Homo sapiens: one gene and its partners. The protein of the gene in region 3 interacts with the protein of the main gene of each other region in a biochemical or structural test. Each region holds a gene or a part of one and is shown on either strand. Other genes may lie near its edges. The genes, in order: EHD1, REPS1, STON2 and SYT1.

Region 1 (7,037 bases), on a different chromosome or scaffold from region 3:
CACTCCACGTCGTCGATGCCCTCGCCGGCCCCCTCGCCGTAGCCGTGCCCGAACGGCCCGTTCATGGTGCCGTCAAAGGCGCCGCCCTTGACCACCTGGGAAGGCATCAGGGACTCCTCCTGCCGCACCATCACCATCAGCCGCGCGATGTCGTTGGCCAGCATGTCATCCACCGTGTCCAGCAGCTTGGGCTTCAGCGCCTGGAACTTGCTGAAGTCCTGGGTCTGCAGGAGTTCCTGTGGGCGGGGGAGGAAGGACAAGGGCTGGGAAGGGAGGCCCCTCCCAGACTCCAGGCCAAGTGGTTCCAGTCAGGGCTTCACAAGCATAAAGTGCTGCTCCCCCACACTAGCAGGGGCGACTCGGCAAAACCATCTGGCCCTTGGCTCTCTAACCTGTACACAGGAGGCACCTCCAGCTCTTTCCTTGCAGGGCTGCGGCAAGGATTCATGGACAGGGCACCAGAGCGCCTGGCATGGCCCTGCCCTCCCCCCACCACGCAGGGTGAGTCACCACATTCCCCTCTGCAGTGTCACCGCCTGGGTCAACTCTGAGTTGGGTGGGGTGCTGGTGATTAACCCAGCTGCTTCCGTTCAGGGAGGCCCTTCCCCATGGAGATGGGATTCCCTCCAAATCCAGTGCCCTGGGCCTTCCTTCTGCCCTGATGGCCACCAGCCTGCATGGGGCCTCGGGACAGCCGTACCTGCATCTTGCGGAGGCTCGGGAAGTCCCCAGGGGAGATCTGGTGCTCGCGCTCAATCTTCTGGTAGATCTCTCCGAGGTTGTTCACCAGCTCTTTCTTTTTGCTCTCTTTACCAAAGACATTGGGCATCTCTTTCTTGAGGGAGCTGATGATGTAGGCGTGAACCTGTGAGGACGGGGTGAGCATCAGGCGCTCTCTTGGCCCAGGCTGCCCCCGAGAGCAGAGCCTCCAAGGACACTCCAAGGATACTCCAAGGTGCTCGCTCAGGAACAGGGAAGCAGGAGGGATGGGTCAAGCTCAAGGCCGCTACCACCACCGGCTCCCACAGTCCTAGGAGCAGACACAATCTGGCAAGAGCCACAGCTGTCCACTGCCACAGGACAGAGGACAGGACAGGAAAACGCACTTGAAACAGAAGACAACAGCCTTGGCCTTGCACGGATCATTGTGATGATTCAGGAAGAGTAAAACCCAGTCTGTCAACCCAAAGAAGGCAATTTGTCGTGTACCACTGGGCACATCACACACCCTCTGTTCAACCCTCACCACGCATCACACACCCTCCGCTCAACCCTCACCACGCATCACACACCCTCCGCTCAACCCTCACCACGCATCACACACCCTCCGCTCAACCCTCACCACGCATCACACACCCTCCGCTCAACCCTCACCACGCATCACACACCCTCCGCTCAACCCTCACCACACACCCTCCGTTCAACCCTCACCACAGCCCTGCGGGGTGGGATTCTCCCAACCCGGCCCTAAGCAAGGCTGGGAAAGGCTGCCTGGGGTGCTTGGCTCCCACATGGAGGAGCTGGGATTGGAACCCCGGGCTGCTGAAGGTGCCCCACAGCCCATGTTCTTCTGTTTCTCTGCAAGCCCCCTTCCCCCGAGCTGCCCCCTCCCACGCAGCAGAGCAGGGAGCAGGCTTCCTGCAGGGCCCACCAGCCTGCACGTCCAAATCCCTGCTGAGTGCCGATGGAGCCCACAGAACTCCAATGGGCCCGTGCCACGCTCCACTCCATCATCACAGCTCGGATGACGAAGGATTTGAAAAATCCCAAAAAGGCTTCTCCTGGTGGTTGCCAGCTTTATCCAAGCATCAATACCTTGCTTAGGCATGTGCCTGTTCAGGGCGGCACCCCCTTCATTTCCCTGCAGCAAGCTGGGAACCTGGCAGCCCTCGAGAGTAGCCCAGCCCTCAGATCCCTCGGCCTTGCCAAGTCGTGTCCAGCCACAGAGGGCTGCGGCCAGCCAGCCTTGCTGCCCTTCTCCCCGGCTCCAGCCCATCCACCACCCCGCTCAGCCTGAGCCTGTGCCCTGGGTGGGGGCCTGGCTGAGAACTGCCTGAGGGAGGCAGCCCCGTGCCATGTGGGTCTGGATCTAGAGTCTCCCCAGGGACACTGTGGCAGGCAGATCCCAGGCCGGTGGGAGTCATCACAGAGAGCACCACTCACTCCAGGAAAAGGAAGTGGCAGGTGTGAGGCAACACTGGAGGCCACAGGGTTTTCCAGGCGCGGTGACTCAGTGTGCCTGGGGCCTGGCAGTCACACATGGTCTCACAGACGACCAGGCAGGGGCTCATGCCTGCCCCTTGTCCTGTCTGTCCTCAAAGGTGGCTGAGCAAGGGAGCTCTCTCTGCCCTGCAAGGAGAGAAACTCAGCTAGGGCCACACCCACACCCCTCAGCTCAGGACGTCCTTTGTCCTTTGAGGCCAGGGTCAGTCACCTGGGTTTTTGTATGGGTTCCTCTCTCAAAGCTGGCTCCACTCACAGGGAGGCTCCAGAAGGGAGAGATCTAGAAAAACATCCAGCCAGCCGGGCGCGGTGGCTCACGCCTGTAATCCCAGCATTTTGGGAGGCCGAGGCAGGCGGATCACCTAAAGTCAGGAGTTCGAGACCAGCCTGATCAACATGGTGAAACCCCGTCTCTACTAAAATATAAAAATTAGCTGGGTGTGGTGACGGGCGCCTGCAATCCCAGCTACTCAGGAGGCTGAGGCAGGAGAATGGCTTGAGCCTGGGAAGCGGAGGTTGCAGTGAGCCGAGATTGCGCCACTGCACTCCAGCCTAGGTAACAGAGTGAAACTCCATCTCCAAAAAAATCAAAAAATAAAATAATAAAATTAAAAATAAGAAAAACACGCAGCCCTCTGTCCTCCAGAGCCGGCATCTGACCCACGCCCGTGCACACAGCTCACGGAGGTTCAGGCCAGAATGAGAATTCCTCATCTACAGGGTGAGGTGGGGCCCAGGGTACTTGGGGCACAATGGGAGGACAGTGGTGGCAAAGGATGAAGGGTCAGTTCTCACTGCTCAGACCAGGTAGCACCCACATGCCCTCTGACTGGCCTCCAGACAGAGTGGGTACGAGGGCCACTGTGCTCAACGCCTGCAGTCTCCATGCCTCTGAGCAGGCAGGGACATGGGCTCCCCAGGAAGTGCCCATCCTCAGTCCTCAGTTATATTCTGGAGATCAGGGGACTGTGACCCTGGCCACAGGCACATCTGTCACTGAAGCCTTCATGCCCACATGATGTCTACCCTGGTACCCCCTGCATGCCATGAGGTGGGGGCAAGCACCCTGCTCTGTTGAAGAACTGGGGACGTATCACCAAAGGGCCTGGCTTGGCAGGCAGGACAGTTCCCCAGCCACGCTCCGGCCTGGCTGGCCTGGAGATAGGAGCTACGGCAAGGGCCTTTTTTTTTTTTTTTTTTTTTAAATTAAATAGAGACAGGGTCTCACTAGGTTGCTCAGGCTGGTCTCTAACTCCTGGCCTTAAGGGATCCTCCTGCTTTGGCCTCCCAAAGTGCTGGGATTACAGGCGTGAGCCACCATGCCTGGCCAGAGCCTATTTCTTTTCTTTTTTTTTGAGACAGAGTCTTGCTCTGCCACCTGGGATGGAGTGCAGTGGTGTGATCTCAGCTCACTGCAACCTCTCCCTCCTGGGTTCAAGTGATTCTCCTGTCTCAGCCTCCCAAGTAGCTGGGATTACAGGCACGCACCACCACGCCCGGCTAATTTTTGTATTTTTTTTAGTAGAGATGGGGTTTTGCCATGTTGGCCAGGCTGGTCTCGAACTCCTGACCTCAGGTGATGCGCCCACCCACCTTGGCCTCCCAAAGTGCTGGAATTACAGGATGAGCCACCATGCCTGGCTGGAGCCTATTTCTGAAACAACCGAGCCCTGTGCTAAGAGCCTGAAAGAATAGCTAGGTGCCCTGCTGATACAAATGTGGGCTTGGTCACTTCTCAGCTGTTCAGACAATCTGTGTCAAACACTCCTGTCCACGGGGTCAACCCCAACCACAGCCGGGACTGTCACTCATGGTGACTCGTCTAGGCTGGCTCACGATAGGGTGCTATCCAAAGTCAGACACGCCAAGGGCATGTGTTCTGTCATTCTGTGTTGGAAGGGCCCGCTGGTGGCATTAACCTTTGTTTCCTGGCCCCACCCACACCGGCTCTCACTCAAGTACTTGGTCAGCCACTGAGATTCCAAACCCTTTGGCCATTCAGAGGCTGCTGATAGGTGCCACCAGGCCTGGGCTGCCAGGAGACCTAAGGATGGTCTGCAAGGCCTGCTGAACTGACACTGCCTCAGCGTGACCTTGGCTTCCATGCACAGTGCTCCCCGGGCTGCAGGCTGGCACCCTGTCTCCTCACGAGCTGCTTCCTGTCACAGCTTAAGCTTCAGCTCCTGCCAGGCCCCCCCAGCCCTTCTACTCCACTGGGACAGCCCCTAGCGCCAGCTCCCGCAGCAGCCTGTGCTCGCTCCGAGACGACACAAATAACTGATGTTTATTTTTTGTTTGCGTGCTCTGCTTTCCCCATGAAGGCTGAGGAGTGGACAGGGGCTGTGTGTCACTCCCCGCCAGTACCCGGCATCCAGCACTGTGCTGAGTGCACTTCAGGCTCAGTAAACCCCAGAGGGGTAATCCCAGCACTCTGGGAGGCTGAGGTGGGCAGATCACCTGAGATCAGGAGTTTGAGACCAGCCTGGCCAACATGGTGAAACCCTGTCTCTAATAAAAATACAAAAATCAGCTGGGCATAGTGGTGCGTGCCTGTGATCCCAGCTACTCGGGAGGCTGAGGTAGGAGAATCATTTGAACCTGGGAGGTGGAGGTTGCTATGAGCCGAGATCATGCCACTGCACTCCAGCTTGGGCAACAGAGCGAGTCTCCGCTTCAAAAACAAAAACAAAAACAAAAAACCCTAGAGGGAAGCCAACAAGCCTTAGAGCTCTATCCCCCAACACTCCATTTCTGAGGCTGCCTCCTTTGCTTCAGCGGTAACTTCCTGTGTGCTGTTTCTGTGTTGTAAGCACAGTCAAACCCTTCCTGAAAGTAGATGGGGTATAAACCACAAACAGAACAGGTTTAGAGGGAGGCCGGGTAGAGAATCTTAGTTAAGAGCAGGCTGCACGCGGGTGCTGACCAAAGACTGGTTTCTATAGAGGGAAACAGCGCAGTGCAGGTCTGCCTGTGAAGTGAGCTGGGAAGGGTCTCGGGCAATCCTGGGGCCCTGAGTGCCAGTCTCAGAGCCCCATGGCCCTGCCTGGCAATAGGCTGCTCCCCTCACCCCAGGGTCTACCTTGGCCAGCCGTGCCCGCTTGATCAGGTCATTGAGCTTCCTGAGGGCGGCGTTTCGGGGCAGTGACTGGATGTCCTTGAAGAGGTCCTGCTCCTCGGCCTCAAAGAGCTTGCGGTTGTCGGGGATGAGGAGCGGGTGGGACCAGAAGGAGCCGATGTAGACCCTGACCACCTCGGGGGTGTTGATGATCTTGCCCAGGGACCACATGAGGGCCCCGTACACCCGCATCAGCTGCTGCGTCTCGATCTGGTCTGCCTTGTTCAGCACCACGCGGATCTTGTCCTCATGGTTCTTCAGAGCCTTGATCACTTCCGAGAACTCATCGGAGATGTCCAGCTTGTGGGCGTCGAAGAGCAGGATGATGCGGTCCACACGCTCCGCGAACCACTCCAGGACGGCTGCAAAGTCATAGCCTGGGGGGAAGAGAAGGGAGAGCTCAGGGGCGCCAAGGGACCTGCTGCTCTGATGGCTCTCATCTCCAACCTGGCCTGGTATTTCTCAGCCTGAGATAGTTTTTAAAATTCCTATAGGCCGGGCGTGGTGGCTCACGCCTGTAATCCCAACACTTTGGGAGGCCAAGGTGGGAGGATCACGAGGTCATGAGTTTGAGGCCAGCCTGGCCAACATAGTGAAACCCTGTCTCCACTAAAAATACACAAATTAGCCGGGCAGGGTGGCGCGAGCACTCAGGAGGCTGAAGCAGGAGAATCGCTTGAACCCAGCAGGTGGAGGTTGTGGTGAGCCAAGCCCATGCCACCGCACTCTAGCCTGGGTAAGAAGAGCAAAACTGTCGCGAAAAAAAAAAAAAAAAGAAAAGGCCAGGCACAGTGGCTCACACCTGTAATCCCGACACTTTGGGAGGCTGAGGTGGGTGGATCACAAGGTCAGGAGTTCAAGACCAGCCTGGCCAACATAGTGAAGCCCTGTCTCTACTGAAAATACAAAAATTAGCCCGGCATGGTGGTGGGCACCTGTAATCCCAGTTACTCGAGAGGCTGAGGCAGGAGAATTGCTTGAACCTGGGCGGCAGAGGTTGCAGTGAGCTGAGATTGCGCCACTGCACTCCAGCCTGGGCAACAGTGTGAGACTCCATCTCAAAAAAAAAAAAAAAAAATAGCCGGGTGTGGTGGCACATGCCTGTAGTCCTAGCTACTCAGGAGGCTGATGCAGGAGAACTGCTTGAAACCAGGAGGCAGAGGTTGCAGTGAGCCGAGATTGTGCCACTGCAGTCCAGCCTGCGTGACACAGCGAGACTCCGTCTCAAAAAAAAAAAAAAAATTCCTAGGTGTTCATCTAGACAGCACAGCACCCTGAGGGCAGGATTATCTCCCCTATTCCTGCCCCCACCATAACACTCCCCAACCCATGTAGCACTTGGCATAAACAGGTGCTAATGCAAAGGTCGTCCCACAGTGCAAGCTCTAAGGTGGGTCAGAGGAGGGCGAGAGTGAGGAGGAGACCCAGCACTGTGCTCAGCACAGCACAGAGGGTAGAACATAGACTCCAGTGTTGCCACCTGCCTGCTGTATGCCCTGGGACGGTAGTGACAAGAGGCGCCTGCAAAAGTAACTGCAGCTGCTACTTTTTCAGTGCTGATGTGCCAGGCTCCCCATTTTGCAGGAATCTCACTTATTTTCTGCAACAAGGGTTGGCAAACTACAGCTCAGGGATCAAACCTGGCCCACCACCTGTTTGTATAAATAAAGTTTTATTGAAACACAGCCATGCTCATTTG
Region 2 (7,037 bases), on a different chromosome or scaffold from region 3:
AAACTAACTTTTATCTCATACATTATGCTAGCAACAAAAAAACAGCTGATACAGCTTAAAGAATTTTAGCTCTTTACAAAGAACTACTGTATCAGTATCACTTATTTCTTTTCTGCAGAATAAGAGAGAAGCTGGCTATTGTAAGGCAATACTGAGTTCTTTGACAGCATTCTTGAAGGGGTTAGTTGTTTATTTTTTAAGGCTCTAAAATCTATCTGCTAGAAACTCCTTGGAAGCAACCCAGTTACCCAACTAATGATATACCACACTTACCAAATATGAGAAAGTTCAAGAATAGGAAGTTTTGATTTTGTAAAAAACTCTTTAGCTGCAGATCCTGAAATATTAAAACAGTGTTGTTTAATGTTATTCTGAACTTACGGATCCACGAACAGAATGTAAGAGTCTTAGACTTTTTTAACTGGGAAAAGATATTTTTAATATGTGAATATGTCATGTTTTTGGCCCCCAGTGATTATAAATTCTTTTTAGACAAATAATCTGATAATTATTTTATAATTAAAATCTATGACCAATAAAACAATGTCTTTGATATTATGAAATTGAGATTCTCCTGTCCCATCTAGAAGAACTTCTGTTTTCAACAACTCACCTGGAATAAATCCGTTTAGATCAGGCTGAATGGTTTTAAACTGATTTACATAATACTGTCTTTGTTCATCTGTTATTTTCCAGGGATCATCATAACTACTGGATTGCCTACGAATTTCAATGGCAGTTGTAGCTGATGCTACAGTTCGTACTGTTGTCTGGTCCTGTAATGAAACATTTTTTCCTCAGTACAATATCTACCTACATGATTATATGGACCAAGATTGCTAGGTTATTTATCTTTGAAAGTAAAACTTGCTTTTTGTGTATATTTAAAATGTAAAACCACACATCTGTTACAGTCAGATTATTGGATATGTTTTTGCACAATGATTATAGAAACGAGTAGAATGACAGCAATTATGTAAGCAACAGAAAGTTATGAAAATGTGCTAAGAAAGCCAAGCAAATATATTTCCAGATGCAGAAACCTTTCAAAACTTCACTAGGGAATCAGAAACAGAAATAAAATCAGCTGAAACATTCCAATGATAACAGATTTGAAATGCACAGAGCAGAATTTTGCTTTTAAATAAATGAGTGGATTTGCATTTATAAAATCTGCAACAGCAAAATATAAAAACAACGACTGGAGCAATACTCTGAATGAAGCAAATAAAAATGCAATACCAATAAAATGTCACACCTGGACAGAAGCAGGATGCATGGTTAAAAGAGTACTGGTTGGTGGAGTATCTGCAAAACTGACCCAGTTTTCTTGAGGTGGAGGTGGGGAATGCCCTGACCACACTGCATCACCAGCAGAAGAACCTATAAGGAGAATGGGTAAACATGCTGACTCATGTTTGAGGAAAAAAGTTACTAGGAAGTTTTCTTTCCAACTCTTACTCTGAAGAAATCTAACAATTTCCAAAATGGAATCTTTTCTGTTCTATTAGAAATTATACCTCATTTAAATATCTTCAATTATTTTGTGCTCTCCTTGTCAATAAAATGTATGTAATATATACATAATATTCTGGGAAATAATTATTCATTTTACCTTTAGAGAATCTGGTATCCATAAACTTGTCTAAACATCACAGATACACATAAATGCAATTACCACTTTTCAAAGCAATGTATCCACTTACAAATTTCCATAGTTGGTTTTTGCTTCTATTTAACTTAAACTTACAATTAAAAACTATCTGGGAGGCAACTCCTGAAGGAATATTATCAAGTTTCCTTCAATTTACAACCCTAAATAATTGTTACTTTCAAAAAATCTCTAAGCCAGGTTCTGTGGCACAAGCCTATAATCCCCACCTACTCAGGAGGCTGAGGCAGGAGGATCATTTGAACCCAGGAGTGCAAGACCAGCCTGGGCAACACAATGACACTCTAATCAATCAATCTCTAAATACCTGATTGTGCTTCACCAAAGGGAGACCAAAATGGCCCAGGTCCCGCGAGAGGCCTCTCACTATTCCCACCGCTGGGATGACGGCTGTGCTTCCTCCATGTGTGTGGAGAAGTTGGTGGGGATTGCTGTGGTGAAACTACTGGGGATGCAGGTTCCTAGAAAAGAATATTATTTTAAAATTTTAACTTTAAGGAGACATTTTAATTATTAAGCTACCAATAAGAGCCTTAGTGAAGCATTTGCACAGGGCATCAACTGCTAATATTTACATGCATGTGATTACCTGTGCATCTGCAGATGTACGAGGCTGAACCGTATCATGGCTTACGGATCCCTTTTTCACTTGCCCCCTGCCAGGTGGTGGGGGAATTACACCAGAATACGACCCTTGATTTTCAGAATCTGAAGAATATGAGGCTGCATGGCGAGATTCCTGTTCATTCTTTGAAGCAACAAATCTTGGCAGAGGAAGGTCCTTTACTGTTAACCACAAAATAATCATTACTTCAAAATAAAAAAGGACATATATATTGAAAACTAAAATAAGACATGAATTAGATATTAGAATTTTTGTAAAAATGGATACAGAAACAAGAGGCACAAAATGTCTATCACCACAAAATTTGGACCACCATCTCCCTTACATTATTTAGGGAGACTCTTATCTAGAAAGAAGTAATAAAACCAAATTGTCCTTCTAATGAGTGATAACAATGGCTACATCAAATGTCTACGTATGTTTGGCCCTATACTTGCCACTGAATATTTATTTCACCTCGTAACCACAGTACCCCTGCAAAGCTCCTATTTACAGATAAGAAAACTGAGGCTCCATGATGCCAAGGTCATGCTTGTAGTAACTGACAGTTAAGATATAAACCTAGATCAGTCAGACCCCAAAGCCTAGGCTGCTTCTACTCACACCGGGTCTTTAAAGTAAGATTTTAGACCTCTAAGTAAAACACAGAATATGTCACTAAGTCTGAGACTAGATTTAGAAATTTTCATGGCAGAAATTCTTAAAAATACCTTATTGTTCACCCCCCAAAAATATGGTAGAGTATTCTATCTATCCACTGTAGTCTGGCTTATGTTTCTCCTACAGCCAGATATTCTACATTCAATTTTAAATAGAGGAGAAAGATGAAGGACTGAGAAACTGTTTGCAGGTAAATAAGTGATACTTTTAGACCAGAAAAAATACAGCTACAAAATCATTTCAGAGGAAAGCGTACTTACCTCCATTACATGATTACTTTCGTCTCTGTTTAGAACCTCCACATGAAGGAAGGAAACTATTAAGCTTATTCAATATACATGTAAAAGAATTCAAAATTACCTGAAAAGAATGTAAACTCCCAACACTAGAAGAATGATGTGTGGCAAACTAGAGGTCCACAATGAAAACCTCTACCGACCAATAAACTAAACTGGTACTTAAAACTATTTCTACAAATTCTGATATTTACAGAATTTTACAGAAATTTTTCTGTACAGATTATTTTTAAAATCTTAATTTTTCTCTTTCCCCTTTACTCTATGAAAATGAAAGAACCCTCTGCATTTAAGTGCCTTTCTTTATAGAATTTCTATCTTCTTTCACATCAACAAGCCTCTAAATACTTGAAAAACAAATTATCTGATGTAACACTTCGATATGGTTTGACTCTGTGTTCCCACCCAAATCTCATCTTGAATTGTAATTCCCACATGGGAGGTGATTAGATCATGGGGGCGGTTCCCCCATGCTGCTCTTGTGATAGTGAGCAAGTTCTCATGAGATCTGATGGTTTAAATGTCTGTGGCTATTCCCCCTTGCTCTCTCTCTCTCTCTCTCTCTCTCTCTCTCTCTCTCTCTCCTGTGGCCACATAAGATGTGCCTTGCTTTCCATTTACGTTCTGCCACGATTGTAGGTTTCCTGTGGCCTCCCGAGCTATGCAGAAGTGAGTCAATTAAACCTCTCTTGTTTATACATTACCCAGTCTCAGGGATTTCTTTATAGCAGTGTTAAAATGGACTAATACAAACTTGTAATGTGGTCAGATGTCTATAACTAGATTTTAGTCTGCCAATATTTTAATATTGTCTCTTATCGATCAAAAAGTTTAGGTTAACTGTTACTTCTTAATTTCAACTGAAGCCTCCACAGCCTTCCCAAACAAACAAACAAACAAAAATACAAAGTATAATGTTGTTTTATTGGAAATGAAGAACACAGGGACGCTATACATGAAGATGGTCGCTGTAATTTATCATTTACCTTAATAAAACTATTCGCCTAAAATATTTCTAAACAACTTTTGGTAAATTAATTCTTAAAAAATTGCCATTTGAACAGTACATATAGTCAAATACAGATGAAGTACATATACTATGCCGTAATACAGGTCAGACATATTTTTCTAGTATTTTCAAGTGAGAAATGCAAGGTAGTGGGAATAAAGTCACGACACTTCACTCAAGGTCACAAATGCCACTATAAGATCAGAAAGACACAAGAGTTCTATTGACTTGACTTCATTTGTAATAGAAGCCTATTTTCTTTCGGTTACTAGTGTACTCTATATTTACCTGTATTTATACTTTCCACTCTTAAAGGGAAACCAGACTGGGCAACAGCTACAAGTTTCAAAGCAATGTAGAACTGACTTCTTCCAAAATAACCAAGTCTTGTTGCACCACAAAGCTCCATGATCTATAAAATAACATAATGTTAACATTAAGATTCACAACAAAAATCTCCCTTCAAAAATAAGCAGCTACCCAACTTGTTTGTAACGTCTCAAAATATCTATCTAATAGATGGTATAATACTCACAACTGACAACCAACTTCCTCAAGTTTCAGGTTCATATGTTTACAAACAAAAAGTCACTGCTTTGCAATAAGGTCATCATTCTCCTATTTATCAAAATCCATATGATTAGCAATTTTCTTAGAATAAATTTTTGTTATGAGTCACATTTTTAAAGAAACAACGTACCACCCACTCTTATTCATAAGCACTGCACATACAATAGGACCATGTGACTAAGAGACTATTATGCAGCCATTTAAAGTGACGGTCTTTAAATGATATAACAACATGGAAAAATACTAAGGATTTATCAAGTGGGGAAGAAAGGCAAGATACCTAATTTTAACCACATAAATACAAATTTGGAAACTATTTTTTAAAAGTCTATCACAATTTTTTCAGATGAGATTGAGTCGGGTTTTCCCTCTTATTTTCCAAATGTGTTTAATATGGCTACACTACTCTTCTTTAAAACAAACAAAATTTGTCTTTTTTAGAGCATGAAAGTGTTCAAGGATCTACATTAATCATTCCAGTCTTTCAACAAGTATTTCTAGACTTGCTAGCACAAGTAAATATTAGACTCAAAAAATAGGATTTCAGATTACAAAATCATAACTCTAAAAGCTGGAGGTTTCTACTATGCAGATATTATAATCTTATCTTAAAATAAACACTAGGCATGCCTGTTGTATCTTTTCAAATAACACAAACTTTTGTATAGAGAGAGCAGTTTTAGTCTATTTTTCCATAACACTCAAAGGAAGATAAGGTATCTGAGATGCTGTGGTATTAAGTCTGAATAAAACTATTCACAGGACTTCAAAAAAAGGACCTATTAATGATTAAGCAATTGTATCACAACAATAACAGCCATTTATTTACATACACAAAAAAGAGTCATTTTTGCTGGCTGACCAGCACTGGAAGAAGTTCCTGTTCCTGCCACTAAGGAGCATGTCCTTCTGAAGAAATGTAAAAGGGCAAAGAGAATAAACAGGCAGGTTAACACCATCAAGGGAACTATGAGGAAAAGGGGAGTTTAAAAAGGCAAGGTCATGCAGCCCCAATCCTCTACTCTTCTGCCCACTTGACGCCTCTTAGAGGTTCATTACATATCTTAAATACTTTTGTTTATATAACAATGCAACTAACATATGCCAGGTATATGCTAGACAGAGGGAAGACCTAAAAGGAGATCACAGTATGGTTTGTTGACATTTTGGGAAGACACCAGGGAAATGGTTAGAAATGAGGAGGTAGTGTTCAAGAAGGGAAACAGAATCTCAATGCTGTTTTAATTGGTATTTATTAAAAGTTTTATATTTGTTAGCCATTTGCATTTCTTTTCCTGACTTGCCCAACTTGTTCTCTGGCAACTTTAAATGGACTGTTAATCTTCTTTACTCATTTTAAGAAGTTTTATTGTGGCCAGGGGTAGTGGCTCATGCCTGTAATCACAGCACTTTGGGAGGCCAAGGAGGGCAGATTACTTGGGATCAAGAGTTCAAGACCAGTCTGGCCAACACGGTGAAACCCATGTCTACTAAAAATACAAAAGTTAGCCAGGTGTGGTGGTGCGCACTGGTAATTCTAAGTACTCGGGGGGCTGAGGTGAGAGGATCATTTGAACTCGGGAGATGGAGGTTGCAGTGAGCCGAGATCATGCCACTGCCCTCCAGACTGGGTGACAGACTGAAACTCCATCTCATAAAAAAAAAAAAGGTTTTATTATATTATACATATTGACCTGCAAACTGTCATGGAATTAATTCATTTATTCAATGACTATTTACTGAGCATCCTCAGGAAGGAAAGACCAGAGTGTAGCTGTAAGTGTGTGTAGAATTGATGGGGAGGAGGGAATGCAGCAGATGGAGCTGATGACTTAGGCAGAAACCAGATCATATTGCACATGTTGTTTTCTAGTTTATCTGTTTTTTCCAAAAAAGCTGTTTTGGTGATACAGAATTTTCCAATTTTTATACAAGCTTGTCATTTCCCCTTTAGGACTTTTGGGTTTGCTAGACTTAGAAAAAAGGTCTTTATACATGTTTTCTTCTAGAATGTTTATGATTAATATTGAAAATATACAAGTCTGACCAAACTGGAATTTATTTTGGAATGAGAAACAAATCAGATATCCTTTTGATCCTCCTCAATAGTTAACTATTGAGGCCAGGAGCAGTGGTTCATGCCTGTAATTGCAACACTCTGGGAGGCCAAGGTAGGAGGACTGCTTGAGGCCAGGAGTTCAAGAC
Region 3 (7,037 bases):
TTGATTTTCTTAATAGTATTTCATACTTTCAAAATGCTTTTGGCATGCTTTTGCGGGTAAATGATATATGTAAATGACAAGGACTTTATAAATAGCACATAGATATTAGGGAAGCATATGGAACACTGGACAAAACACCAACCAGCAGAACACCTGGGTTGGACTTCCAGCTCCCCTGCTAAGCAGCAGAGCTCCTGCCCTCAAGTCCTTTATACTCTCCAGGCCTCAATTCCTCCTCTGTAAAGTGGGGAGATTAGGGTACAAGGGATAAAGAGGGAGAAGTACAACAGGGTGGGCTGGGCAATGCCAGGCACAGTCCCTTGCTGCTCCTTAATTCTATACATCTATGGGTAACTCCACTATACTCGTGATGGCAAACTTTGGGTTTGATTTTTACTTGAGAATTGTTATTGAGATTTTTGAGGAAAAAGAGAGCTTACTGCTGTGACTATAACCACTGAAACATCATTGTCATTCACCTGCCATACAGGAAACATTGAAGTACCCTATGCCTTCTTCTATGTTAAATCTTTTATACAGATTCTCTCTTTGAGTCTTCAGTATGATCTTTCAGGTCAGAATGTTACCTTCATTTTATAGTCGAGGAAGCTAAGGCTTAGGGAGGTAAAATGAGCTACCCACAGTCACAGCTAGAAAGTGGCAGAGCTAAAAACTGAACCTAGCGGGAGGCCGAGGCAGGTGGATCACGAGGTCAGGAGATCGAGACCATCCTGCTAAAATGGTGAAACCCCGTCTCTACTAAAAATACAAAAAATTAGCCGGGCGTGGTGGCGGGCGCCTGTAGTCCCAGCTACTCGGGAGGCTGAGGCAGGAGAATGGTGTGAACCTGGGAGGCAGAGCTTGCAGTGAGCCAAGATTGCGCCGCTGCACTCCAGCACGGGTGACAGTGTGAGACTCCGTCTCAAAACAAAAAACAAAAAACAACTGAACCTAGCAGTCTGACTCCAGAGTGTTCTTAACCACTTTGTCTGAGTTATAACCTCATGGTCCCCAAAACAGAAGACCAAGTTTGCAGGGTGACAGGGGTAGAGAGGGATTGAGCTGTAAGAACCCCCATATAGCAACTAGCTATAGATAAACAACATGAAATGACCTTGCCTTAATTATGTAACTGAAACAGCCCCTTAGTTATCCCAGTTTCCACAAACAAACAATTCCAATGTTCTTTATTGGTCTGGCTAGGACTTTTCAATCTCAGAGAGTAAGGACATACACACCCGCTCTCCAAGGAAAACATTAGATAGTGAAGTATTTGTTTTGCTCTGTTTCACAAACGTAACATATTTCAGTGGTTATTTCTAAAGAGTAATGCTTTGGAATATTGAAAAATTTGCACTGATTTTCAGAAAAGAATTTAAGATACATATAACAGTAAAAATTAAAGTAATTGAAAATGAATCCACTCAATGTTTTTAAATTGTGTGCCACAGATGTAATTATACAGCTATCATTTATGGGACATTTATTACAGGCCAGATACTGCACTAAGCCCTTAAAAGCATTATCTCATTTCATTCTGAATGAACTAGATATTAATAACCCTATTTTATAGATGAAAAAAATTAGGTTTCTCTGAGAGGGTTAAGTAAATTGCCCGAGGTCACACAGCCGTTAAGTGGTAGAGCTGGAAATAAGATTCAGAGATGACTCTGCCTTCAAACTATGTCCTAAATTCTTCTCAATATATTGCTGTGAAATTAGATCACAACAAAGTATACAGATGCATCTCTTAATTTAATAGCAACTTGGACAACTCTTTTAATCTAATTACACTTATTTTGCACATTGTTGGAATATGGAGAAATCTTTCCTTTCTACACAACTGATTCCCTCCTTTTACTCCACCAAAGTGTACTCACAGCAAATTCTGAAAGCAGCATTCTTTACTAGAATTCTAGCATCGACTCTCAGATGGGTAAGGGTGGTGGACAGTTAAGGAAGTTCAATTTTGAAAGCTATTATGGTTTAATTCATAGTAATGCATTAAATAAGTCCACACATTCTGTCATTTCCCTTGATGAGGTTGAGAAAATTCAACAACAAAAAATTCAGATTTTTAAAATTTCCCATACAAGGATGAACATATTGGGACTGTTTTCCCTTCACCTGGTCTAATGAGAAGGGGGATTCCTGCAAAGAAAGCCACTTATGCAGGACAGAATGTTTTATTTCCTGGCAGATGATCTGTGGAAGCAGCAGGACTTGTTTCGGTGCCTTCTAAGATTAAGAAAAACTCTTGGGATGAAGGTAGGAGGGGTCCTTGGAGAGCTCAGAGAGGGGAGCTGCCCACGTATGTGGCTGGGCTGGGCCAGGCTGGGCTGGGCCCCGCCGGCGGGAGTCACGTTGGAATTCAAAGGTAGCTGCTTGATCTCTTGGTGGCTGGGACTGGGACAAGCCTGCTATAGGCTAGGGATGCCAGCAACACAAGGGTGCTGACCTGCTGACCTGCTGGCCTCTGCTGCCTGGGGTTTGACTGCCCTGCCCACTGGGGCCTGGAAATGCAGGGCCACCGTAGGCAGGAACGTGTGAGGAGAAGTAGGCTTCCAGTCAGCGGGGCCTTTGACCTCAGCTGAGCCCTAGCTTCCTTAAAGAAGGTTAAGGATTACAAAAAATAACCTGTACAAAGCACCTTCCCAGGGCTGTCTGAACACCTAGACAGCAGAGCCCAGGAAAGGGCTATTACTGAAAGATAACCATCAATTCTCTGGGTTCCCGGATGGAACACTGCAAGGGAGGGCAGGAGCTGGGCACAGTGAATACCAGCAATGAGTGAGAACTTACATTCTGCCTGGAATTCAGATCCTATACACCTCAAGTTTCCAAAAAAGGGTGCTGTCCATTTCCTGAACTGGTATGGAAACATACCACTGGCTAGAGAAGTATAAGAAGCCTCTTTATGGGGTTTCACTATTGAAAATATTGTTATATAACCATGACAGCAAAATCAGTAATGGGGCAAGGCTGTGAGGATTTAAGTAAGAAACATCAACAGATATCCTTATGCTGTGCTGTATTTCAAAAATCTTCCACAAACGAGGTTCCAGCAATCTGGAAACAGATATGTAAAACAGCATATAAGCTGCATTTACTTGCCCTTGAGGCAACAGAACACTCTCCACTGGGAATCATTAAGGAGAGTGTTTGCTGAAGGCCTGGTTTTGCTTTTTCCCTGTCCTGTATCCATCCTCCCTCTCTTCTGGTAGCAGTCTTTTTCTTTCTCTCCTTTTGGGAAATAATCTTCCCCGGTGCTACATGTTGTCTTGGTGGTCACGTCAGTCAAAATGCACTCCTCTCCCCTAGTCTCTTGAGCCAAGTTGCAAAAGTACAAAAAATAGGGCCAGGTGCGGTGCCTCAGACCTGTAATCCCAGCACTTCGGGAGTACGAGGCAGGCGGATCACCTGAGGTCAGGAGTTTGAGACCAGTCTGGCCAACATGGTGAAAACCTGTCTCTACTAAAAATACAAAAATTTAGCTACTCAGAAGACTGATGCAGGAGAATCGCTTGAATCCAGGAGGTGGAAGTTGCAGTGAGCCAAGATCGCACCACTGCACTTCAGCCTGGGCAACACAGCGAGACTTCATTTCAAAAAAACAAACAAACAAACAAACACAAAAAAACAAAAACAAAAAATAGTCTGTGATGATTTGTCCTAAGGCTACATGCTGAGGAGACATCCATTAGTCTCTATGACCAGAGCTACTCTAGTGCTGTCTGTCTAAAGTCTTCTCTTGATCAGTCTTTTCCTCAGGTCTCTGAGCTATCCTATCCAATAATTTGTTTTGTTGCTTAGGGTAGCCGATAAGTCTTTGTTGCTTATAATAATAATAATAATAAACCTTCATGCAGTACTTTTAAATGTTTGGGAGAAATCACTTTGAAACAAATAGATACGTTTGTACATACTGGAAAAACTGCAAATATCTGTTCTTCTGGTGGAAATTATTTCAATATTTGTGTCTATTTGGCTTCATCTACCAGGAGGCACCAGTGATATATTAAGAAAAGGACCCTGGATGTGACTGCATGACTCTCTAGATACGTCACATCACCTTCCCGACCTTAATTTTCTCATCTATAAATAACTTGACTAAGTTATTCAAGGTCCCTTCCAGCTTGAAAATCCGGTAATTCCATGGTTGTCTCTTTCCAAGGGCTTCCGTGTCAAAGGAGAGTTCAGGGTTTTCTCTCTTCCTCTGTCAATTCAGAGGGGCCCCGTGGATAAGGTAGAAGTTACAGTGCTACCACCAGCAGAAGACAGTGCTGATTTCAGGGGAAATGAATAAGCAGGCACAGAGAGGAACACTTGGTTTTAAAAATTCTGTCAGTTTAGAAGTAGGGAGTAGCAAATCCAGCCTCAAACACAGAGATCCAATTGTCTCTTCAGTTTGCATAGCTACACCCAGTGTCTGATACAGAATGCCCTGGTGTGTGTCCACTCCCTGGACTGCCTGGGGAGCTGGCCCGATTATACTGCCGTCGGCCGTCACATTGCATTACACTTAGGATATAATAATACAGACACTCCACACTCAGAGCGGGAGAGGAAGACTCTTAACACACTGCTACGATTTATAGTGAGAATCTAAGAAAGGATAGCCACATAAGAGAAAGCCATTTCACTCAAGAGTTTTTCCAAACCTTATCCTTTTTGCTCAGCTAGCGTATCCACTTTCGTTAACAGATGGGCAAAATGTATTCTAAACAAGAAAAGAAGGGGTTTAATGGCTTACAAGATCATGGGCTTGCTGCCTACCATTGGGGTCACCCAGACATACTCTAAGAAATATGTGTATTAGTGCTGGTTTGACTGCTCCCTCATTTTGTCATTTCACTAAATCTCACGGGACCCACGGGGGAAGTAATTGCCTTCTGGACTCACTCAAGCACAAAAGCATCCCTGATAGCTGCGAGCAGCCCAGCTAGGGCTGGTAAGCATTTTTTTGTTTGTCTAAATAAAACATTCTTTTCTTTATATTTTGTCTGCTAGACTTCTGGCCCTTTTAGAAATTCATGTCCTAGCTGGATCTTCAGTCTGATTGAAGGCCACTTTTCTTTCCCATCCCCCAGTCCCAGAGCCAAAGTCTGAATGTGAGATATTATGACTAACAGACCCTGCACAGGGTAGCTGGAGTCGTAAAATTAACCTCTCAGTGTATTGTCCATGATTGGCCATAAACTGGCCCTTTTACCTACATCGAGGGCAGTGTGAGAAAGATGTCTCTTCAGAAGCCATCTAGAAATGAATCACTTCCAGCACCACAGCTAATACGTTAATGAGTCCCCAAAGAATATAAATTCAGAAGCTGCCCTGAAAAGCTGCTTAGCAGCTCAGCTGAGAAGAATAATCCCTAGTTTTATGGAAGATGTGTGATAATGAGAGGGTGAAAAGACAGAGTGAACTGGGTCACTATACGCATTACTTACCTTGCTCAATTATTTTTACTTTTCTGGTCCCACTCCCCCTCCATCACCACTCCCATCACACAGCAAAAACAAGCACTTCATACAGGATGTGGAACTTTGATCTCAGCTTTTTCACAACTGTATGTTTGTTTTCACAGAAGAGGAACCACCACCCACCTGAGTTTTTGTCCGGCAGTCGGTTTATCCTCCACACAATGGAGTTGAAGGCATGCTCGTACTTGGCAGTTCCCAGAGTTACTCTCATGACAGGCTCAGAGCCAGAAACACTAGTGGAGCCAAAACTTGCCCCCCGGTTCACTTTGGCTTTCAAAGACTTTTCCCCCAGGACACTTTCCCTGCGGAAGTTTTTCACCCACTCACTGGGCACAGGGTAACGGATCATCACATTCTCACAGGGAACCTGAGTGAGGGGGTCACGATTGGCGGAGAAGCCAGTTGACATCCTCAGCCAGCTCTGCACCTCCACCTCTGCCCCATTGACACTTGTGGCCGTCCTGAGTGTGAAAGGCAAGGTCTTCTCAGCAAACACTGTCCTGAACCGCATTAGCTCAAACCGGCACGCATCCAAAGGGTTGAACAGAATGACCCGTGAGTTGTGGAAAACATCCTCATCCACACACCCATGGAAACGGCACTCATGGAGCTTGATCCACTTTGTGGTGGTGGTGGGCATGATGTCCTGCCTCAAAACTATTTCATTCCCTTTGACGAGGATGTCATTGAGGCCCAGGCGGCACTCTGCGAGCCCAGACAGGAAACTCAGGATGTGGATCCGTGTCAAGACATGGTGCTGGAGAATCTGGTTGTCTCCTTTGCTCACAATGCCAGAGAATTCATCTCTGACATCCACTGTAATCTCCTCTTCAAGGTAGTTGAGGCCAACTGTGCTCAAGTCCATTGACAACACTGGCAGATCCATGAGACGGTCCTGAACTGCATGGATGAAACTCAGGAAGTCATCGTAATTGGTGGTGCCCAGCTTAATCACCTGTTCCCTCTCTGCTGTGTGGGCCACAGCAGGTTTGGGCTGGTATTTCTTCTTCTCTTTATAGGTGACACGGTCTATCCGCAAGCTGTGGATTCTGCCATTCTCATCATAGTTTTGAAGCCGGGGTTCTGAAATCTCATGACAGATCTCCAGCTTGAACTCACGGAATGGTTTTTCTAGGCCCTGCTCATAATACAGCTGCAGGTAACCAGTGTCTGTCAGTTTGACGAAGATCGGTCCCCAGTGCCTGGAGGACATGATGTTTTTCTTCTCAGGGATCCTCAACATCATTGGCCACCCGTCACGAGGCTGGGACCGTGCTGATCCAGGCGGGTGAGCATCTAGTTCAATCCAGGCTACTGGGTCATCATCAGGTAGAGTTGCACTGCCAAAGTGATCAGGGTCATCAATTTGGAGTTGTTTGAGTTTTTCAACAGCATCAGAGTGTGACTGGGTTTTGCTTGAATCATCAAAACTGATGGCATCCTGGTAGATGACAATGAGGGAATCTCTTTGGCTTTTGCCCGTGGTACTGGAAATGGAACTGTTTTGGGAGCGCCTCTCCTGCTCCTCAAAGAAAGCACTGAAAGGGTTGATAGGGG
Region 4 (3,772 bases), on a different chromosome or scaffold from region 3:
AGTGCAAAGTATATAATAAAAATTAACGTTTGAGTATTAAGATTCAAGTCATTTTCATCCTCATCCTAGTGCTTGGAGATTGATTCTTCTATTTCCAATTCTTTAGCGCTCAAGGACGCTTTATAGTCGGGCCTTATCTCTAGAGCTAGATGATTCATATTCATTTCATGGCTTCTTTCAGAAAGTGCAGGTGGTGGTAACTGTTTTGGACTATGACAAGATTGGCAAGAACGATGCCATCGGCAAAGTCTTTGTGGGCTACAACAGCACCGGCGCGGAGCTGCGACACTGGTCAGACATGCTGGCCAACCCCAGGCGACCTATTGCCCAGTGGCACACCCTGCAGGTAGAGGAGGAAGTTGATGCCATGCTGGCCGTCAAGAAGTAAAGGAAAGAAGAAGCCTTTCTGCATTTGCCCATATAGTGCTCTTTAGCCAGTATCTGTAAATACCTCAGTAATATGGGTCCTTTCATTTTTCCAGCCATGCATTCCTAACACAATTCAGTGGTACTTGGAATCCTGTTTTAATTTGCACAAATTTAAATGTAGAGAGCCCCTAAGTCCTTCATCATACCACTGCCCTCCAAATCTACTCTTCTTTTAAGCAATATGATGTGTAGATAGAGCATGAATGAAATTATTTATTGTATCACACTGTTGTATATACCAGTATGCTAAAGATTTATTTCTAGTTTGTGTATTTGTATGTTGTAAGCGTTTCCTAATCTGTGTATATCTAGATGTTTTTAATAAGATGTTCTATTTTAAACTATGTAAATTGACTGAGATATAGGAGAGCTGATAATATATTATACGGTAAATATAGTATCGTCTGCATTCCAGCAAAAATATCAACTCGTAAGGCACTAGTACAGTTAAACTGACATCTTAAAGGACAACTTAAACCTGAGCTTTCTATTGAATCATTTGAGTACCAAGATAAACTTACACCACATACTTGGTGGGTGAATCCAATTTTGTAGAATTCCTACACAGGCAAAATAGCATGATCTGAGCAGCAGCATCCAGGCTGACCTCAAGGAAGCATAGCCACAAAACAGAATAGCACCTGTCTGTACATATTTACAAAGCTAAAATAATGGCTTCACTCTTATATTTGAGGAAGCAACTGAACAGGAGTCAATGATTTCATATTACTGCATATAGAATAACAACAAGGTGTTCCGTGTGTGTGTGTGTGTGTGTGTGTGTGTGTGTGTGCACATTTGTTTGGGGATGGGGGAGAAGAAGCTAAGGGGAGAAGTCAACATTTATGAAATATTGCCTGACTATTTAAAAAGAAAAAAGTAGCTCTCCATTATCACCTTTATACAAAATGTACATCCTGTGAATTCTGTTCCAGATTTCACACCTACAATAATTCCAAAAGGTTTGCACATTAGAGTTTGTAACAAAATATTTTATTATATAAAACCAGGTTAGAAGGAATGCAGGATATTTTTAACACAACAATCTGTGCTTATTACACAAAATTACTTTGTGGTAAACAGACAGTATTGTAATCCCATCAAAAGATGAAAGAAAAACAAAAACAAAAACCAACAACAATTAGCCATAGTTCTGAATGCACTTCAATTAAGCCAAAACAGACAGCTAGTGATCTTTTTATATGCTCTTTTTACTTAAGTTTTAATTTGTCCTTTAAAAAAAGGTGAAACAAACCAAGAACAAGTTCTAGAAAACTGAAGCAACCTCTTATGTATACTAGATGCTTGATTTAGGAGGAGTTTTTAAACGTTTTCAATGTTATTATGTAGTAAATGACACTATTATGAAGCTACTAGTCATTCCATAAGAGTCTTAAAGGACTGCTCTGTGTAACACTGTGACTGCCGTGTGTGCTTAGACCCGTAGTTTCCTCAGTGGATAGCACTCAATTTATTCCGTAGTGATATTGTAACAATACTGCCATTCCCTTCTACTGCACTGCCCAAGGTGTGTGTAGCACAAACAGTTCTCATTACAAAGGACCAATTCAGAACTGAAAAGCTATGCATAGGACAAGGAAGATACATAGAATGGGGTGGAACACAGCATTTTGTCAAGCACTGTGCAATATTCCATATTTTTCCCCACTATGGTAGACAACCATTTCGTGGAAGGGCAGCCTATTATCCCACACTGCATCTAGCCTTTTGTCCCATTCACTTCTGTGATCCATTTTAATTTCCAGGCCACAAGACAGTAGTGATGCTCTGAAATGAAAGTTTGTCTTCACAAATATCAAAACAAAATGGAGGAAAACTAAGCATTGGCCTCATGTTCAGTCTTCAGGATATCACACCACGTCTTTTCAAAAACTAAAGAGAATTCAAAAAGGGCTGATGGTAGGCTTTGAACATGGGGTTGGCTGTTTCCCAGTAAAACTGGAATTCCTGTCGTTACTGTTTCCTTATCAAAGAAGGGGCAAGCTCTTTTGCCTTTTAGGCCAGACATAGCAAACGCTTTATAATTGGCATAGACATAAAGGATAAAAGGAAAATAACCGTCTGCCGATGGTCCGTACTTCTTAAAAAACATAGGTAATAGAAAATATACACAAGTCAGAATGTGAAATTAAATAATGGTTTGAACAGAAAATTCAAACAAGACTCTTTCCAATTTAAAGGGCCAAACCCTACCAAAGAGAGGGAGTTGACTGGCTTTTAAAAAGTATTTAAATACCACAAATGACATTTAATTTCACTGTATTCAGCTTTAAGTTGTTCACAATGAAACCACACTTTCAAACAAGCAGGTTCAAGCTGCTGAATAGACATTATTTCTTGCATTAAAATACCACTAATGCATTCTCTTGCAACACTGCCAGACATGGGATTGTCACCATAGAATTAGTTGGTACTATGCCATCTTTCACTCTTTCACAAGTCAGTGATGGAACCTGCTTTATGACCAAGATTCATCCTCAAATAAGCCACATGTACCCTTCTGACAAAGCTGTGTAAAGTATTAGAATCTGATGCTCTAGAAAGATCCTAGTTGCCTTTGTGTATATTTACTGCCTGCTTGAGTGTTTCTATGTGTGGGTTTTCCCTGTATCTTGTAGAAATGTTGGGGTGTTTTCCTCTGCCATATGGCTCGTGGCCTGCGAGCCAACTATTTCAGCTGTATTTTACCTTCATTTTTGATGAGGTGATTTAAATTTTGTTTCACTTTGTGTAGTGAATTCCACAGTAGTTTTCTGATTGTTGTTAAAAATGACTTAACATATTACACAGATATTCAATAAAAATGTTTTATTTCCTGTTGATGTTGCTGCGTTCCCACTCTTTTCCTTGCCTGACTCTGGTGGTAAGCCAATGGCCTATTGACTTTGGGGGACTCCTGGAAGCAGCAGCAGCTAAACAAAACTGCACTGAATGCCAGCATCTGAGTCACATCTGAGTACAGAATAGCTAGAGGGAAAACAACACCCGGGAGCATTTGGCCATGACCGCGTGGTGTTCCTGGGCAGTGTCATTCTCAACATGTGTTTCTCTATTCCTGTGTGTCATCAGTTCATCTGGCGTACTCTGAGGCTTTTCACTTTGCCCAGCATGTGTCCTTCAGGGTTTTCACTCCAGAACCCAAGTCACACAGCTTCTCCAGAATGGGACGGAAAACAAAACTATTTAAACCCCAGTTTCAGAGGACAGTATGACACATTAAATTCTATGCCTACTACGATCGCTATGGGAAACAAGTAAATACTTTTCCTCCACTAAATTTAACATTTATCAAGTGCCTACTGTACTGGACGCTGAAGCCCAC

Evidence for each region.
Region 1: the proteins of STON2 (region 3) and EHD1 interact in a biophysical measurement, tested with the Homo sapiens proteins (one study listed by IntAct).
Region 2: the proteins of STON2 (region 3) and REPS1 interact in a biophysical measurement, tested with the Homo sapiens proteins (one study listed by IntAct).
Region 4: the proteins of STON2 (region 3) and SYT1 form a complex in vitro, tested with the Homo sapiens proteins (2 studies listed by BioGRID).

Annotation. Positions count from the first base shown.
Region 1 is NC_000011.10:64,854,622-64,861,658, forward strand, and holds part of EHD1 (EH domain-containing protein 1), read right to left. Parts: intron 5,716-7,037; coding exon 5,303-5,715; intron 866-5,302; coding exon 701-865; intron 237-700; coding exon 1-236. UniProt on the Homo sapiens protein: ATP- and membrane-binding protein that controls membrane reorganization/tubulation upon ATP hydrolysis. In vitro causes vesiculation of endocytic membranes. Acts in early endocytic membrane fusion and membrane trafficking of recycling endosomes.
Region 2 is NC_000006.12:138,943,240-138,950,276, forward strand, and holds part of REPS1 (ralBP1-associated Eps domain-containing protein 1), read right to left. Parts: intron 4,675-7,037; coding exon 4,551-4,674; intron 2,459-4,550; coding exon 2,262-2,458; intron 2,134-2,261; coding exon 1,980-2,133; intron 1,384-1,979; coding exon 1,259-1,383; intron 777-1,258; coding exon 614-776; intron 338-613; coding exon 274-337; intron 1-273. UniProt on the Homo sapiens protein: May coordinate the cellular actions of activated EGF receptors and Ral-GTPases.
Region 3 is NC_000014.9:81,271,298-81,278,334, forward strand, and holds part of STON2 (stonin-2), read right to left. Parts: coding exon 5,604-7,037; intron 1-5,603. UniProt on the Homo sapiens protein: Adapter protein involved in endocytic machinery. Involved in the synaptic vesicle recycling. May facilitate clathrin-coated vesicle uncoating.
Region 4 is NC_000012.12:79,448,737-79,452,508, forward strand, and holds the end of SYT1 (synaptotagmin-1), read left to right. Parts: intron 1-181; coding exon 182-388; 3' UTR 389-3,272; downstream 3,273-3,772. UniProt on the Homo sapiens protein: Calcium sensor that participates in triggering neurotransmitter release at the synapse. May have a regulatory role in the membrane interactions during trafficking of synaptic vesicles at the active zone of the synapse.